Linked DNA regions of Homo sapiens: region 1 is linked to region 2. Evidence: fine-mapped expression QTL. A gene starts in region 2. The other region holds a variant in brackets. All regions are shown on one strand. Distances are between the middles of the regions.

What was found. PIP is the estimated chance that this variant, and not a neighbour inherited with it, causes the effect.
Region 1: its variant is the best candidate, but not a certain one, in a credible set for the expression of GRIA1 in tibial nerve (GTEx, PIP 0.87).

The regions. Positions count from the first base shown.
Region 1 is chr5:153,516,207-153,524,206 of GRCh38, reverse strand. All of the region lies in intron 2 of GRIA1 (glutamate ionotropic receptor AMPA type subunit 1), which reads right to left. Among named protein-coding and RNA genes, the nearest start is that of GRIA1, 30 kb to the right of the region's middle. The variant C/A (reference allele first, on the strand shown) is at 3,081.
Region 2 is chr5:153,486,061-153,494,826 of GRCh38, reverse strand. It overlaps GRIA1 (glutamate ionotropic receptor AMPA type subunit 1), which reads right to left and starts at 4,157. Exons shown (of 16, transcript NM_000827.4): 1 at 3,857-4,157; 2 at 762-899. The coding sequence starts at 3,938.

The DNA.
Region 1 (8,000 bases), 30 kb before region 2:
TACAGGTGAGCCCCACCACGCCCAGCTAATTTTTGTATTTTTAGTGGAGACAGGGATTTCACCATGTTGGTCAGGCTGATCTCTATGTCTTGACCTTGTGATCTGCCTGCCTCAGCGTCCCAAAGTGCTGGGATTACAGGCGTGAGCCACTGCGCCTGGCCCTGTGCCAGGAATTCTGATTCAGTACATCCAGATTCCAACTATTAGCATTTCAATAACATTCCTTGCTTCTCCTGTATAATTAAGCTTGAGAACCGTTGCCTAAGACTCCAAAGAACTTTACTTTTCAAAGCTGTCTTCAAGGAACTTACAGCTTTTGGAGAAAACTAGCATGCAGTAAGAGTGGCTGGTGATTACTAATAATTCATTCAGTCAACAAATAGTCATTGAGCTGACTATTATTTGCCAGGTACTGTTCTTGATACTAGGGACACAGCTATGATGAGGACAGTCATCTCCTATATGTAGGTCACTATAACTTGTTTTCAATTCTATCCTCGCAGCATTCTTATGAAATAGGTATAATCACTTTCATGTCACAGGAAAGGGGCAAGGAGCTCGAGAACATGGCTGACCTGCACAGGGTGTCAAGGCCAGTCAATGACAGACCTGAAATTTAGATCAATATGAGTCTGATGCTGTGCTCTGTGTTCTTTCCACAACAGTAACAACATAAGCATAAATAAAAAAAAAAATGTTCAAAGCAGTCTGAGTTCAGGGTCAAATGAGTAGTAAAGTTCAGCCAAATGAGTAGTACTGTGGAAGTTCAGCCCTGAATGAAATCATTTCAGGCTGTGGTGAAAAATGAGGCTTCTTGGAGGAAGTGGTAAACTGCATAATGAGGGATATAAAATTGCAGAAAGGCAAGAGGCATTTGAGAAGGGAGATTATACAATAAGAATGAAGAATATCAAGGGATGGGGTAGGAATGTGCCAGTCTAATTTGGGAACAGTGAATGAGTCCTTCCAGTTAGAACACAGCCTTAGAGAAAAGTGGGAGAAAAAATTCCAGAGTAGGTTAGAAGTGAATTACGGATTGCCCTCAGATATCTTGCTTAGGACTCTGAACTTACCCAATCAGACAAGGGAGAACAAGAGAGATGACATGATAAGAGAGAGGTCTAATAATAAAATGGATCAGGTCTGCAAGATGGATCATTGAGAGAGAGAGAGAGAGAGAGAGAGAGAGATATCAGGAACAAGAGAATCAGGTGGAAGATATTTATACAGGAGAGCTGCTACAAGAGGCAATTCATTAATTAATAAGAATTCATACCTAACATTAAAGAAGATTTTTCTATGTTCTAGGCCCTATTTTTGATAATTTCATAGATTAATTAATTTGATCCTCAAAACCTTCCTCTGAGATAACATTTAGCTATTCCCAATTTTGCAGTTACATGGTAAGATTTCACTTTTCTACCTCCTTTAAAGTTAAGCCTGGCCATCAACTTGCTTGATCCAATGAACTGTGTGTGGAAATGATGTCCGTGACCTTGGGAATAAGGCTTTAGAGCCAGGGTGTGGCTTATTACATAAGTTCCTTTGACACTGTGATCATGTTAGGATGGTCCCTCTTTCAGCTTGGGTCCCTAAGGAAGCATGAGGAGCAATGCCTCTCCCCACTCCCCCACCATTTTGTGTTGGACTTGCAGCATGACCAAGAAATAAACTCATGTTATATTAGCCCATGGAAGTTTGGGGGTCATTTGTTACTGTGGTATAACCTGGCCTAACTTGACTGATACAAACTCTTACTCATTATGAATATGAGCTCTACGGTCAGACCACCTGAGTTCAATGTCCCTCTCCACCATTCATCAAATTGACTTCATTTTCAAAATGGGAATAACTATAGTGGCTACCTCACTGGGACATTTTAAATATCAATAATAACAACTTTACATGCCATGATACAGGTTACAGGTAGTATTTTAAACTGTTTATGTGTTCTCTGATTCAGTCCTTACAATAACCATCTTGCAAATGAGAAAACTGAGGCACAAATAGGATATGGCACTTGCCAAAGATTACACAGCTAGAAAGTAGTGGGTTCAGGATTCAAACCTAAGGCAGTTTAATTCCAGAGTCTTACACTTATCCACAGGCAATGTGTGGGAGCACTCAGCTCCCAACACAATAATTACAGGATCACTTTCTCCAGGTGGCATGAGAAAACTCAGTGTCTGGGTCCTACAGTCTTTTGAAGGGTGGGCCTAAAAAGTATGTCTGACCAGAAAAATAAATATATTGACTCTGAAATATTAAAAGCAAACTGTAAAATCAAATTAATAAATATTTAAATATCTATAAAACATGTCATTGCACCAACTAGTGTGCAGCAATGCCACTCAACTCACACATAAATCAGATTCAATGTGAGATGTGGGTGTGCTATAATATCTTTGGTGTAATGAGAGCAGCAAGACACACAACAGTGCATAGAGCCTAAAATATGCCTTAAAACAAGCCCCTGATTAGAGTTCAATGAATGTCAGCTATCATATTATTTTCATTATTGTCCTTAGCTTCAACCACCAGAGCTACATCTGAAGCTATTCAAAATTCTTCAAGGAAGCAAATTGGTCCCCTGAGCCACTCCCAAAAGGCTCTGGGAAGCTCACCACCGAGGATGGTTCTGTCCAGACTCAAGGGAAGGCAGCAAGACTGAGCTGCTTCTTTTTGCCCGGGAAGATCTATTTCTCCTTCCCCACTGAGCCAGATGTGGAAGCTGTAGTTCTGTCAAAGGGCTCCCAGACTGCCACAGGGCTGGGCATGGAGTTAAATAAAATGTACCTTTGCAGCTACAGCAGAAAGTCAGAGGCCATTGGAATCTGCAGCTGCCTGACTCCAGCTCTGCCTCTTACTCTGTTTCTCTGGTCCCTGATACTTTCTTCTGTTTATGGCATGTGTTACTCTGCATAAACTCTTCTTCCTGAAAGTTCACACTGACTCTTAAACCTTGGTCCACTGTCCAGGGTCTGCTGCATAGCCTAAGCATTGTGCTCACTCAGGACATGGTATCTGGAAATGCTTTCCATCCTTCATGCCAAGCTAACAGCCTCTGACCCCAGGCCCTC[C/A]CTTTTGTTCCCTCTTTTGATTCCGCTCATTTCATCAGCATGACTCGCAGAGTTTTCCTCATTTGTTTTTGAATTCTGGGGTAGTGATTTAATAGTAATAGGTTCAAAGATCAGACAGATCTGAATTCAAATCCTTGTTCCACTGCTTGTTAAGGGTGGGTGAACTTAGTAATTTACTAAACCTCTGTTTTTATAATCTATAAACTGGGGCCTAAAACATTACCTGCTTCATGGAAATGCTTTCATGATTAAATGAAATAAGCCAGTGAAAGTAAGAAATATAATTGCTCAATAGATGTTAGCTATTTATATTGTTATTATTACTATTACTAATTCTTACGTTTGATTTTCAGAGGTTCCCTGTGAATCAGGTGAGTAAGAAATCCAGGTTCTTATTTCATGGAGAAGGAAGCAGAAGGTTGAATAGGTTGGGAGGCTGGCCCAAAGTTACAGCATTTGTAAGGAACAGAACTATGGAGCCTCTAGCACTAGATCTAGGAAGTCTTCTGTCTTTTATTCCTTCCATTGCTTGTATACATCTTCCCTACTCACTTCCATATCCATGGGCCCCCACAAAGACAATTTTAATGATGTCCTCATTTATTGCAGCAATTTTTGTAGGTAGGCCCTTGTGTCCTGTCTTTCATTAGAACAAAATCCCCCTTTCTTCTTATGCACCAAGCTCAAACCTCAAAGAACTGCAGAGAATCTTGAATCTGGCAACTTTTGATTTGGTAAATAATTTGCCTTTGTCCTTCAAGGCTCCACTGTGGGTGGCACTGCATTGTTCTGGATTCCCCTGAGAGAGCTAGCAATTTGTGGGCCAGCACATTCACCTCTGTGCCCTTCACCTTCTCTGTAGGATGTATAAGCTAAATAAAAGTTGAATGAATAAAATAAATGAATGACTAGAGAGTCTGAAGAATTCAGAGTGAGGTGAAAGAAAAGAAACGCTGCTTGCTGAAGGAGACCAGTTGGGAGTCTGGAAGCCTTGGGTCTAGAGGTTTTATTAAATTAATAAGCACTGACATATCTAGCAAAGAGCCTGGCCCACTTAAGCTCCCTAACACACATTAGCTATTGTTACTACGAACCTAACAGGCCATGAAATCACAGATACATCTCTTTACTTTGCCTCTCCCCTGGACAGGCAGATTAACAGATTAACAATCCTTTCACTCCTACTCTACTTTGTGTAACTGGAGAGATTTTTAAGGGAGAAAATAAAATTATCAAGAGGGAAAATAGATTATTAGAATATAAACATGCCTTGAAAATGTCAAAAATGTAATCAAAATGTATGGTATTACTATTGTACTAATTATTATCATTATATAATAATCTTCAACACATGGCAATATGGTCTGATATGAAGTATTCCTACAGAGAGACTTGATGATGTTTCCTTGTCTAGGACTGTCTTTCCTTTGCTGGTTGAAGCATGCTTCTCAAGGTGGATGGGGTCACAGACTCCATGCCCTTCAGGTCAGCTGTCTTCACAGGGGCTGCACTCCTGGATGATGTTTTACATGCTGCAGGTCCTGGAGCCAGGGTCAGGCAGGGTAACTGGCTTTATTCAGTCACAATCTGGCTTCTTCAGCCGTGGATTGAGAGCAATCTACACTCACAGCGTTAAGATGAGAACTGAGTTACAGAAAAACTTCAGACTCTGATCTAGTCTGATCTAGTATCCCATAAAATTAAGTCATTCAATAGGTAGTGGTTGTCAAACTTTGGTGAGCATCTTCAGAATCATCTGCGGGGCCTGTTAAAACAGAGTGCTGAGCCCCAACTCCAAAGTTTCTGATTCAGGAGGTCCGGCCTGAGACCCTCGAATTGGCATTTCTTTTCTTTCCTTTTTTTTTGAGATGGAGTCTCGCTCTGTCGTCCAGGCTGGAGTGCAGTGGCGTGATCTTGGCTCACTGCAGCTGCCACCTCCCGATTCCAGCGATTCTCCTGCCTCAGCCTCCTGAGGAGCTGGACTACAGGTGCGTGCCATCATGCCCGGCTAATTTTTTGTATTTTTGGTAGAGACGGGGTTTCACGGTGTTAGCCAGGATGGTCTCGATCTCCTGACCTTGTGATCTGCCCACCTCGGCCTCCCAAAGTGCTGGGATTACAGGCGTAAGCCACCGTGCCTGGCCTTGAACTGGCATTTCTAACAGGCTGCCATGTGATGCTGACTCTACCAGTCCAGGACGGTCATCTTTTGAGAATCACTGATCTAGTGCTTCAGAGCACTGGCTCTGACATGGAGCACGATGCCAGGCTGAATTCACTCAGCCACTTACTAACTGTCCCCATGGCCCAGTTATTTGAACCTCGCAGTATCTCCATTTCTGCATCTGCCAAATGCATTTTTATGTAGTTTAAATGTGATAATACTAACTCATAAGTTTATTGTGGCAATTATATGAAAAAAAATACTTGCATAATATTTGTACAGTGCTGAGCACATAATGGCTCAAGTTTGGCCACTATTACTATTATTGTACATGTATACACATGATTAATAATATACATTATCATACTTTTAATCCTGAAACTACTGGCTTTTAATCCTGAAACTACTGACTTCTCAGTTTCCCTCATTAGGCCATGAGCAGCTTCAGAGTAGTGGCTGTGTATTTTTCATGTCTGTATCCCCAGGGCTGAGCTCAAATCCAGGTAGAAAGAAATAGCCACTTCAGAAATTCATTCATTTATGTGGTTACTTGATAAATGTCTACTAAGCACTTAGTCTGTGCTAACCCCAGACTAGACACAGGATACAAGGAACAAGAAGCAGATCCTTTTCTTGTGGCGCTTACACTGAGCAGGTAAAAAAAGACATCAGATAATACAAGTAAGTAGGCAAAATGGGTACTAATTATAAAAAAAAAGCTTCAAAGTTTAGTAGCACCTGTGGGCTATTTAAAAAAAATGCTTTGAAGGATGTTGAAGTGCTGGAAGAGAGGGCAATTAGAAATTTACTTTAGATTAAGTGTTCAGGGAACACTCTCTGAGAAAGTAACGTGGGAATTGGGACCTGAATAGTGAACTAGAGCCAGCCATGATGAGATTTAACGGCATCCCAGGCAAAGGGAACAGCCAGTGCAAAGGCCCTGGCAGCTTGGCCTGTTTAAGGAACTGAAGGAAGGCCTGGAAGGCTGAAATCCAGTTACATGAGAGAGGGGCAAGAGGTAAGGTTAGGGAGGGACAGGTTCATGGAGGGCCTTGTAGGCCAAGGAAGGGAGTCTACATTTACTTAAGCAGAGGAATGGAATGTTCAGCTCAATACGTTTAAAAAGTCACTTTAGCCTCCAGGTGGAACATTGTCTGGAAGGAGGCAAGAAGACAGGTTAGGAGGTTAATGTAGTGATATGGGAAAAAGATCACAGTGTGAGGGATACGGGGTTATGGTAGAGATTTTTTTTGAAAAAAGTGTGTGGATTCAAAATATATTTTGTAACTAGCACTGACAGACTTGCTGATGAACTAGATGTGGGGGTTCAGGAAAGAGAAACAGAGGATTATTCTGTGGGATTAGTGAACGCATCTCCAGCTGTGATCTCTTTATAAGGAGCTGCCACAGCTACTTAGCTTCCCATCTGCCCATATCTCATGTCTGTTTCCCTTACTTAATTTGATCCCTCCCTTTCTGAGGGCCCAGGGGACTTTCCATGGTTCTTTGAGGGTCCCTCCCCTGATTTCCAAAGCTGTGCTTACCAGCACTAGTGGTTACTACCCCTGGAAGCTCAAATGTTCTGCTCCCCACAAAACAGGAAGAAGCAAGCCCTGGGGGAGGAGGGGTATTAAGAGAGGGACCAGTCAGCAGGCGGTGGATGAAAAAATAAAGCCATGCAGGCACTCTGGGGATCTGGATGCTGTCAGGAAACTGAAAACAAGTTCAATTGAATATTCAGAGAAAGAGTGAATGTTTTCTCCTCGCTGGTTCGGGCCTCTGGGTACTGGTGGGAATGGCAGGACCACGAAAAAAGCAGAGAGCATCCTCTAGGCCTGTGTGGGTTTCCTGCGTGGCTGAGGGCAATGTATTCGTGAATGGATGTTACAAATAAGTGATTCTGATTGCAGGGCCTGCTCTCCTCCCACCTCCTGCCTCTCTCTCATACCCAATATTTCGTCATTTGTCACTCATCTTAAGATCCAACCATTAAGGCCAAGCTGAGGTTTTTATGAATTTGTTTTTCTTCATAATACGGCCATGAATGTTGCCATCAGTAGAATATTTTTCTTCAGCTCTAGATCAAGCTCAGTTTTCGTGTTTGATTTTTGTTTTTCCTTTTTTTCTTTTCCTTCCCTCAGTTGGCATGGGAACGCTGAGGCACCAGTTCAGGGAGGATCCATCAGCCTCATCACAATACGCCCCCATGCTGCCCAAGTGCTTTGATATGAAAAGTGCAGACACATTTCTTCCTCGTGAAGGGAGATCTGGACGCAGCAGCCTTTTGTCTCCCCAGCCAACAGGTGCTCCAGCTCACATGATTCCAGAGGTTAAAGAGACCTCAGAGGCCAGTCCACATCCCAGAGGAGGGAAGCATCTGAGCCAATGCCACACCACAAGGCATCAGTGTACAGGGGACTCAAATCCAGGTATTTTTACAACATTAGAATGCTGTGTGGTGTTTTTAGGATCAACTAGTCTTTTCTGAGCCTTTGTTCATTGGTAAAATCAGATTATCAACTACTCTCTTTCCCCCAAAGGGTGCTGTGGGGATCAAGTGGGATTGATGTGACTAGCACATAGAGCAAATGGGGAGCATTTCTTTTAGCCCTGAGACTCCAAGCATGGGTCTGGCAACTAGATGTTTATAAACAGTTATTTATCCAATGGGAAATTAAAGGAAATAGTTATCATATTTATGCCTGAGAAGTAGATATGGTAGATTTCTTATTTTTATTTTTTTGAGACAGAGTCTC
Region 2 (8,766 bases):
TTCCTGATTAATTTTTATGCTTTCATCTGTCATGAAAAGCCAATCATGTGAGCACAGGCTTCCTTTTCATTCCTAGTTGCCAGGAAAACTCAGAATGGTGTTTGTTGCCCACATTTTACAATGCATTCAATTCAGATGTCAGAGATTTATCTATCCCTTCTTCTTGAGGCCACCTTTGTTCTGTTTGATGCTCAATGACCATCCTACAAACTGTGCCTTAAACAACCAATTTCCTCAAGCTATTTTTAAAATGACCAAGGCACCAAGTTTTAATTATTGGTCACTTCCGAAAATGAAGAACCAGATGTGTACAACTTCTCAGCTATTATTTCTTATCAAGCTACATTCTGTCCATTTAACATGTAGATAGGAAATGCCTTAAGCACTTTAAACCACATTTTCACAAACTCAGGACCCTTAATTCTATGCCTCTCAGAAGATTCGTATGTGTAAAACTCTCTCAGCTGTGCCAGAAAACCTCTGCAAGGTAGGGAAGATGCAGTCAACCCAAGCACCCATCGTGCTGGCATTAAAGTTAGCTGACAGTGAAAAAGCAAATCCATTACATGAAGCATTGCAGGGGCTAAAATGCCAACTGCTGGAATCACTCAGAAGCCTCTAGAAATTTTTCTTGGAGGGCTTTCTCTTACAAAGACGAATGGCAACTGAAGTCATTTTTGCAACACCACCACCTACCCACAGGCCCTCCTTTCATTGGTCTAGCGCAGAAAGACATCTCAGAAATAGAAGCAATTACTTACATCTATAGGTCATCTCAAAGCTGTCGCTGATGTTCACAATATCAATCTGGGGGAGCAGCTTCGGGGGCTCTGTGAGTTGCGACAAAGCAAATCTAAAAGCAGCATGTTCCTGTGACTGCTGGTTTGGAAATAATCCCCCTATGAGAAAAGAAAATGCAACATGGTATATGGGCTAGAGACAGGTTTTAGTTCCTCACGACTCACTCCAGATGAGTCCTTTTCTTCTCCCCATGCCAAACTCACTAGCTGTAGCCTTGAGTGGTAGAGATGAGAGTTCAAATAGGCTTAACTGGACACTGAAACTTAAACTCCTACAGATGAGCTTTTTTGTGACATGGGCCTCTAATATCTATTACTTTGCTCAAACATTTGATTGTGTACCCCTCAACTCAGCTAAAGTCAGAGAAAACAGGAGACTTGTGCCATTTCTCTTCTTCCTCCCTTGTGCAAACCACCTAGGAGCTGCTATTCTCTTATATAAACATACACATAAGCCCCCTCACCCTCTAGTCATGTCTAATTTTTCTTACATCAGCCTCATCTCTCACCAGAGAGCCTTACGGGAAGTAGGTACTAATCAGTGCTGCAGGGTGATTGAAATCTAGCTCTGGGACCCTGTGGGCTTCTCCACTACTATAACTGTTTACATGGACAGTTTTTAGTCTTTGGCCTAGCAAGACCTGCATGCAATTTAACTATTCTATTGCCCCTAAGGTTTATTATTCATTTTCTCTAAAAACTCTTGCTTTTCTGCAAACAATGTTTTGCTTACTCTTTCACCACACATGATCCCAGTTACCTAGGAATGACTTGTTACATAAGGGATTGCCATTGTGTGTTTGCATGGTGGAACCTTGTGCTTCAAAGATGTGGGATCTTAGGCATCTCAAGAGGATACAAACATTCTATTCTAGTAAAAGGTATAGTAAAGGTGCCTGATGGGATGCCTGTTCCGAGAAACAAGAGTCCATGGCTTACCTTTGTATTTACTGTCAACATGTAAATCAATTACATTTCTGTGAATTAAAATCAGCCATTTCTAGAGACTGAACTATAATGATGTTTACATAGAAGTTTATCTCAAATCTGACAGTAATCACAGTCCAAACATAATGCACTTCTAACTTCTTGTAGAGTGGGTGTCTGTTTTTAAGAACCAATAAATGGATTGCAAGCCTTTTGTTACAGATCACACAAATAGAATCAAGTACTACCTGATGGCAGTGATATTTTCAGCATTTTGTTCTACAATTTAATGCTTCAATCTCTTTTTTTTTTGAAAACAGTAGCAATGGCTTTATCAGTTGAACAACCAAGTTAGGGCTAAATATAATTTTAAAAATATGCAGAGATACATGAGAAAACATAGCACATACATGAAACATCCTCATGCATTTATACCATTTACTATATACACAAATATACTAGACAAACACTTCCAAGCCACAAAGGATAGGTAGTATATAAGCACAAATGTAAACAATGCCACATGTAAGAGCCAGTGATTTCCACATGTACAAGTGCTCCCATTTTAAAGAATGAAAACAAAAAAAATTCTTGATTATGATGCTCCCCCTTCCCCCCAGATGACCACACCCCAAACACTTCCCTGTCCCCTTTCTCCTCCTCTGCAATGAATGAAAGAGAAAGGATGGGAGGTTGAGGAGTAGAAGGCTACGGGCTGGGCTACAAGGGAAGTGTCTCCCCTGAAGGCAGGAAGTTTTGCGTGTTAGGCACTAACACACAGATACGTACACACTTCAGGATGTAGCTTAACAGGTGTCAGGAAACAAAGCAAGTTACTCCATGGCCACTCCAAGCCGCCAGCTAGCTGGAGAGGCTGAAAGAGATGGGTACTGCAGCACATGTATGCCCGACAAAATATCAATTGCACCACATCCCCCCTCAAACACACACTCACAAAAGAGCACAAACTCCCAGCAATGCGAACTTTCCCTAGTGGAGCTATCTCCCTACCAGGGGAGAGAGACTAGAAACCAAACCAACGAAGATGCTTCCAAACACAGCAGCTTGCTTCATTCCGGGACACAAACGACACTGACATGCTGGTCACACGGAAGCCCCAAGCCCTTGTGGACATGCTTTGTGATTGGTGTTATTGCTTCTGTTTGTTTTGCTTTCCCTCATGATTATCAGGAGTAGCAATATCTGTCAGTCCCCTCAGAAATACAGGGAGGGTGGCGGGGCCTTTGAGAAGTGTAACAACTAAGAAGGGGAAATGGGGAACAAAAAAAGCATGCAGCATGTTGAAACCTGCCTCCAAGTTGAGAGGATGGAGCCCAGTAACAAGGATAATGGAGAGCCAACAGGAGGAGAAAGGAGCATGTGTACGTGTGTGTGTTTGTGTGTGTAAAAGGTAGACCTCTGTGGATAGGAAATCTAAGAGGAGGGGGCAAGGAAGGAACGGAGAAAAGGCAGGCGAGGAAGTTCCAGGATCGGGGGAGTGGAGACCACCAGCGCAGCATGGCAGACAGCAAAGAGAAGGCAGCTGGAGGAGTCCAGAACAGGAGAGGGAGCCTACCCGCCTTGGAGTGGGGGCCTTCTGGCATTATTTCAGTGGCTGCAATATACCCAGCACCCCTCACTCCTTCTTCTCGAGGGTCTCTTTTCTGTCCCCCAGCAGAGAAAGCACTGCCTCCTTCAATTACATATATATGTGCATATGTAATATATAATCACACACGTGAAAACACACACACCATACATACTTACATTAAAAATGGAATCAAGCACCATCTACCAAGCAATAGAGTTAACTCCTTAAACACCCACCACCCTTTCCAGCCTGATTTTTTTTTTCCTCCAAAGCGATGGTTCCTCCATTTCACATGCTCTTGCCTGGAGTGCGAGTAGGGTATGTGTGCGTGTGTGAACACTTCCCCTCTGCCCCTCATCCGATCAGGAGAAGCCCCCTCCTCTGGCTGTAAGCCCAAGTCTCCCTTCTGTTACCGCAGCACAGCTTTAGGGAGCCAAGCAAAACAGTCAGTACCGGGGAGGGGGTACACAACCCCTATCCCCAAAAAAATCCCTGGCCAGACCCAGAAAGTCCCTCCCCAGGCTGCCCCCTCACTCACCGATCTGGATATTGTTGGGGAAATTGGCACCTACTACCGCGCCTAGGAAACCGGTGCAGAAGAAGGCAAAAATGTGCTGCATATTCCTTTTTGCATTGGCGAAAAAGAAGCCCAGGTCCAATCATAGATTTGGTGTTTCCCCCCCTTTCCCTTTATTCTTCTCGCTGTTCTGCCTGTTCTTTTCCTCCTGCAGTTCCTTCCTTGCTTGCTTGCTTCCTTCCTTTCGTGAGGTTTGTCTGTTTCCCTTGGAATCCGAACACTTAAACTGCAGCGTTAACACCAACTGACAGCCAGATTAACTGAGCACGGGAAAAGAAGCCCGTCCTCATGCTAGCTGGAGCGCTGGCTCCCCCACTCCCTCTCCTCTCCCCTCGCAGCCTGCCTCTCTCTCCCTCCCTTGCTCTCTCTCGCTCTCCCCCTCACACTCACACAGGCAGCAAGCTCTATGCTAATACCCACCGAGCTAGCTTGGAGTTCCACAGCCGACCTCCCTACCTGTTCCCCCTTCCTCCCATCCTCACCTTATCCTCCTTTCTGTGTGTGCAGAAAGGTGGAGGTGGGGGTGTGTGACACGTGGCACTTGGTCCTGAAAGGGGCAACCCCACAGTCCTCTTTACCCTCCCCTGCCTTTCTGAGCTCGGTCTGCCCGCTCCCCCAGCCCCCAGGCTGAAGCTGCTGGGAATGTGGGTTCAGCTGTAAGTCAGTAGGTGGCAGGGGGTCCCCACAATAGTCCTCAATCCACCAGCTGCTTGATCTAGGTCACTTTTTCTAGGAGTGCATGGGCTGCGCTGGATATATCTCCTGCACTCCACTGGCCCAATTATTCCTACAACTAATTCCTGAGGGAAAGACCCTAGAAATCCCTCCTAGGAAATTTAAAGGAAAAAAAAAAAAAAGCTTTCTCTCTCCTAATGGAAGGAATGACAGATAGACAAACAAGGGAGGATCTGGAGTGACTGGCAGGTATTTTGACCAGGTATTTGACAGTCCCTGTCTACCTTTACAAGTGAAACGGTGGTCTCTTTTCAATCCTAGGCATTTAAAATGGGCCCCCTTCTCTCTTTCCCTGCATTCCACAGGAGTCTATAGCATCAGAATCGTGTGGGTGTACAATAAAGACTAAGGATACTTACACAGAGCAATTACATGAGTCATTTTGCAGGGATTCTAGTGAGAGGATTCAAGCTTCTTTCAGGTCTTTCTGGATGCTGGTCATGTCTGGTGTAAGCTGGAACTTCATAGACTCTCCTAGACCAGGGCTTCTGCTGAAATAACCTGTAGAGAGATCAGCTGTGTTCAGGATAGTAGTGTTAAATGCAAAGCAGCAGCCACTAGCCGCCACAGAATACAGTTTTTGAAGGAACTTTACAGATTTTTATCCATCTATCTTCACTCCAAACCTGTAAAGTGGCCATGAGCCCTGTTTTACAGATGAAAAAGATAAGACTTCTGGGATTAAGTCATAAAGACACAGACCTACTAAGATGTACAGTACAACCTACAAACTTGAGTGCTTTGGCCGTTACCAGTTGACTTACTGCCCTGGCCAGGACTCCTGTCCAACAGGAGATGATCCAGGAAAAGGAAAGTCAACTTTGTCTTTAGTAAGAAAGAAATAATAGACTTTGGACTCCATTTTGCTTTGCCATATGAATAGGCCATTTTATCCACAGACTCTTCACTTCCCTCACCAGGACTGTATATCATGTGGACTTGAGTGACAGCTACAAGGACTGGGATTTGTAAAAAATATCTGACCATGTACAATGAAGCCCCAAAATAGGAACAACTTGGAGGTCAAATGCTTTGTGATTTCCTATGCACTTTCACATATATTAATTAATTAGCTAAAATAATTTTTAAGGCTAATGTTTATTCACTATTTTGAATGTGCCAGGTACCATGCTAAGAAATGCACCTGCATCATTTATTTGTACAATACCTGTGTAGGTAGCCTCATGCCCATTTTATAGATGAAGAAACAGAGGTCTAAAAACTCACCCCAAGTTTTCACTGCTAATGAAAGAGATTGGGCATTTAAACACAGTAAATGCCACCATCAGGCCCCAGCTCTTAACTCTTAGGCTCTAATAACAGCAAGCACTGGGTAGGAACCTTCTAAAGGAAGAATAAGCATCAGCATAGGAAGATGAGAGAACAGAATCAGGAAAGATCACTTCTAAGGTCTCTGCCAACATTAAGAGTCTCTGATTTAATGATTCCATCTTTTAATTTCTCCATTTTCAGTTTTTGTATCTTACTACTTTGAATAGTACCTGGGGATCTTTTAGGTTCCCTAAGCTTTGTGCCTGGTAATAATAATAATTAGGCTGTCATTAAAGGCTTCACACCTTGCAATCACCTTTTAGAGGAAGCTCTTTAGACCCTTTACAAGCAAAACCTCAATGTCCCCCTGCATTAGGTAAGATTTGTTTTGCATACTTTGTAGGGAGGGGACTTTTAAGGGAGTCAAAAAGATGAATTTTCCATGGTCATTATAAATCATATAGTCAAGCAGATCTTCCTAAAACAGAGGTCTACGTCATTGCCCTGCTCAAGTATGGTCAATAGCTCCCCTTGGTCTATTAAATACATAGTTGTTCACTGATTAAATATAGAACTTACATATTTCAAGTGTAGGCATCTAGGTCAAACTACATTAGGTTCAATGTTTATTCCATGTTTCTTTATAATTCTCTTCATTTCAAATGTTGGTGGGGAACCTATTCTGTATCTCACAGGGTGCCAGGTGCTGGGCAATATGAAGAGGAATCAGACACAGTCTCTGCCTCAAGGCAGGTGAATGTGGCAGAAGAAGAAGACAGACGAACCCGGACAACTGTCACCCAGAAAGACCATGACAAGTGCTCTAAAAGATGTAAACACAGCAGCGGGGGAGCAAAGAAGGATGCAATCAGTGTGTCTGTCTGTGGGGATCCAGCAAGGCTTCAAAAGAACTGAGCCGTGAAGGATGAGGAGATTATAGGCAGTAACTGAGGACTGGGAAGGACATGCAAACCAAGGAAAGAGCCCCAGCAAAGGCTGGGGGCAGGAAAGAATGCCACGTGCTCTGTTAGCCTGGAGCCGGCAGTGCATAACTGGGAAGAGTGTACTGGGGAACTTGGAACTTAGAGGAAGTCAGTGTCAGGATTTGGAACCCACTGAATTCCTGGTGGACCATGATGAGCCATGGGGGCATTTTTAGTATGCTAGTTACAATAGCGGGCATGTGCATGAGAAAGAAAAGATTGACCACTGGTAGAAGGTGATTTTCTCATTTCCTCATCCTCAAAGGTTAGAACTACCTACCAAACAGCTTCATTTCCCTAAATAACTTATTTGACGTCATCCTTTATTAGCTCATCATGCTGTCTCTCTTTAGAGTCCCCAGTCCTATTTGCCATTCCCAAAGTGGCAAAGTCTTCAAAGTGGCTACATGATTAGCTTAAGACAGTGGTTCTCAACTGACAGCAATTTTCTCCCCCAGGGGATATTTGGCAAAAATGTCCAGAGATGTTTTTTGTTCTCACAATTATGGAATTGTACCCCTGGAATCTCATGGGTGAAGGCCAGGGATGCCACTAAACATCCTACAATTCACAGAGCATCCACCCCACAAAAAAGAATTATCTGGTTCCAAATATAAATAGCATTGAGGCCAAAAAACCTTCCTTAAGGGGACTAGTGATTGGCATGCCAGGGACTGGGCACCAGGACCCTGCAGCGTCCCTCCCATTATATTACACTGAAGAAAAATTAAGTTGATTATCTTTTAAGACTTTTCATATTTTAAAGTGGGATATCTGAAGATGGGTGCTCATTAAAGTCCAGCAGTTAAGTATCTAATGGAGGAACTCCAGGTGGCTGACATCCCATTGGAAAAGCCTCCAAATGCTGCTCAAATTGTGCTCTAGAGACAGCATGGCACCTACTCCTCAAATTAATTATGACCCATCCCAGCTCATATTTTTGGCATACTTTAAGTCCTCTTACCATGTAGCCAAAACAGTCTAAGATTTACTTATTTTGGCTTTGTTTTGACACCGCAAATCAAGGAGAATGGTGTTGGACAGGGATTACAAATGCAAATGCTTCCTTGAGCCAGGCAGGGAAATGAATGAAGTGAGCCAAGTTGGGGAGAATGGGGAAGACAAACGGAACTAGAGAGACTGTGCCCTGTTAAAGGTGGCCACAGGGACTCAATAGGCAGCAGATTATTACCATGAGGAATTGTAGGCCTAGAGTGGCTAGATCCTCAGATTCTTTTCTCAAGGAAAAGTAGAAATATGGAATATATATATATATACACACACATATATGGGATATGGAATATAGTGACTTAGGGAAAAAAGGGGTAGGGTAAGAGTAGTGCCTCTGAGCTTGATCTGACTGACAGGCCACGGAGTGCCAGTGGAATCCTGGAGACAAGAGTCCAACCACTTCTCATGCCCAGTATCAATTTAGGGGCCAAGTCCATTTCCTCTACAAGACTGTTTCCTCATCTATTAAATGACAAGATTAGATGTGGTGATGGCTACAGACCCTTCTGGTTCTGACACTCTGTAACTCCATTTGACAGCAGGGGCTGGGGTAAGGGAGAGAAAGGACAGATGTCAGGTCTGGGGAGGCCCATTCTCTCCTCTACCTCCTATTACCTGTGATAGTGGTATTGGCAAGTTCCTTCCCTTCTTGGACTAGTTTCTCCATCTGCAAAATATGGGTGTTTCACCAAGGTTTCTTCTGGCTTTAACATTTTAGGTTTCTAGTGTAAAGCAATTCAAGGGGGTGGGGGGACCATCAAATTTATGATCTAAGAACAGATTGCTGACAGCTAACCAACTGGCAAAAATGCAATCAGAGAGAGGGTGCCTCTGTGGCTTTAGAAAGGCCTTATTTTTAAAGATGTTTTA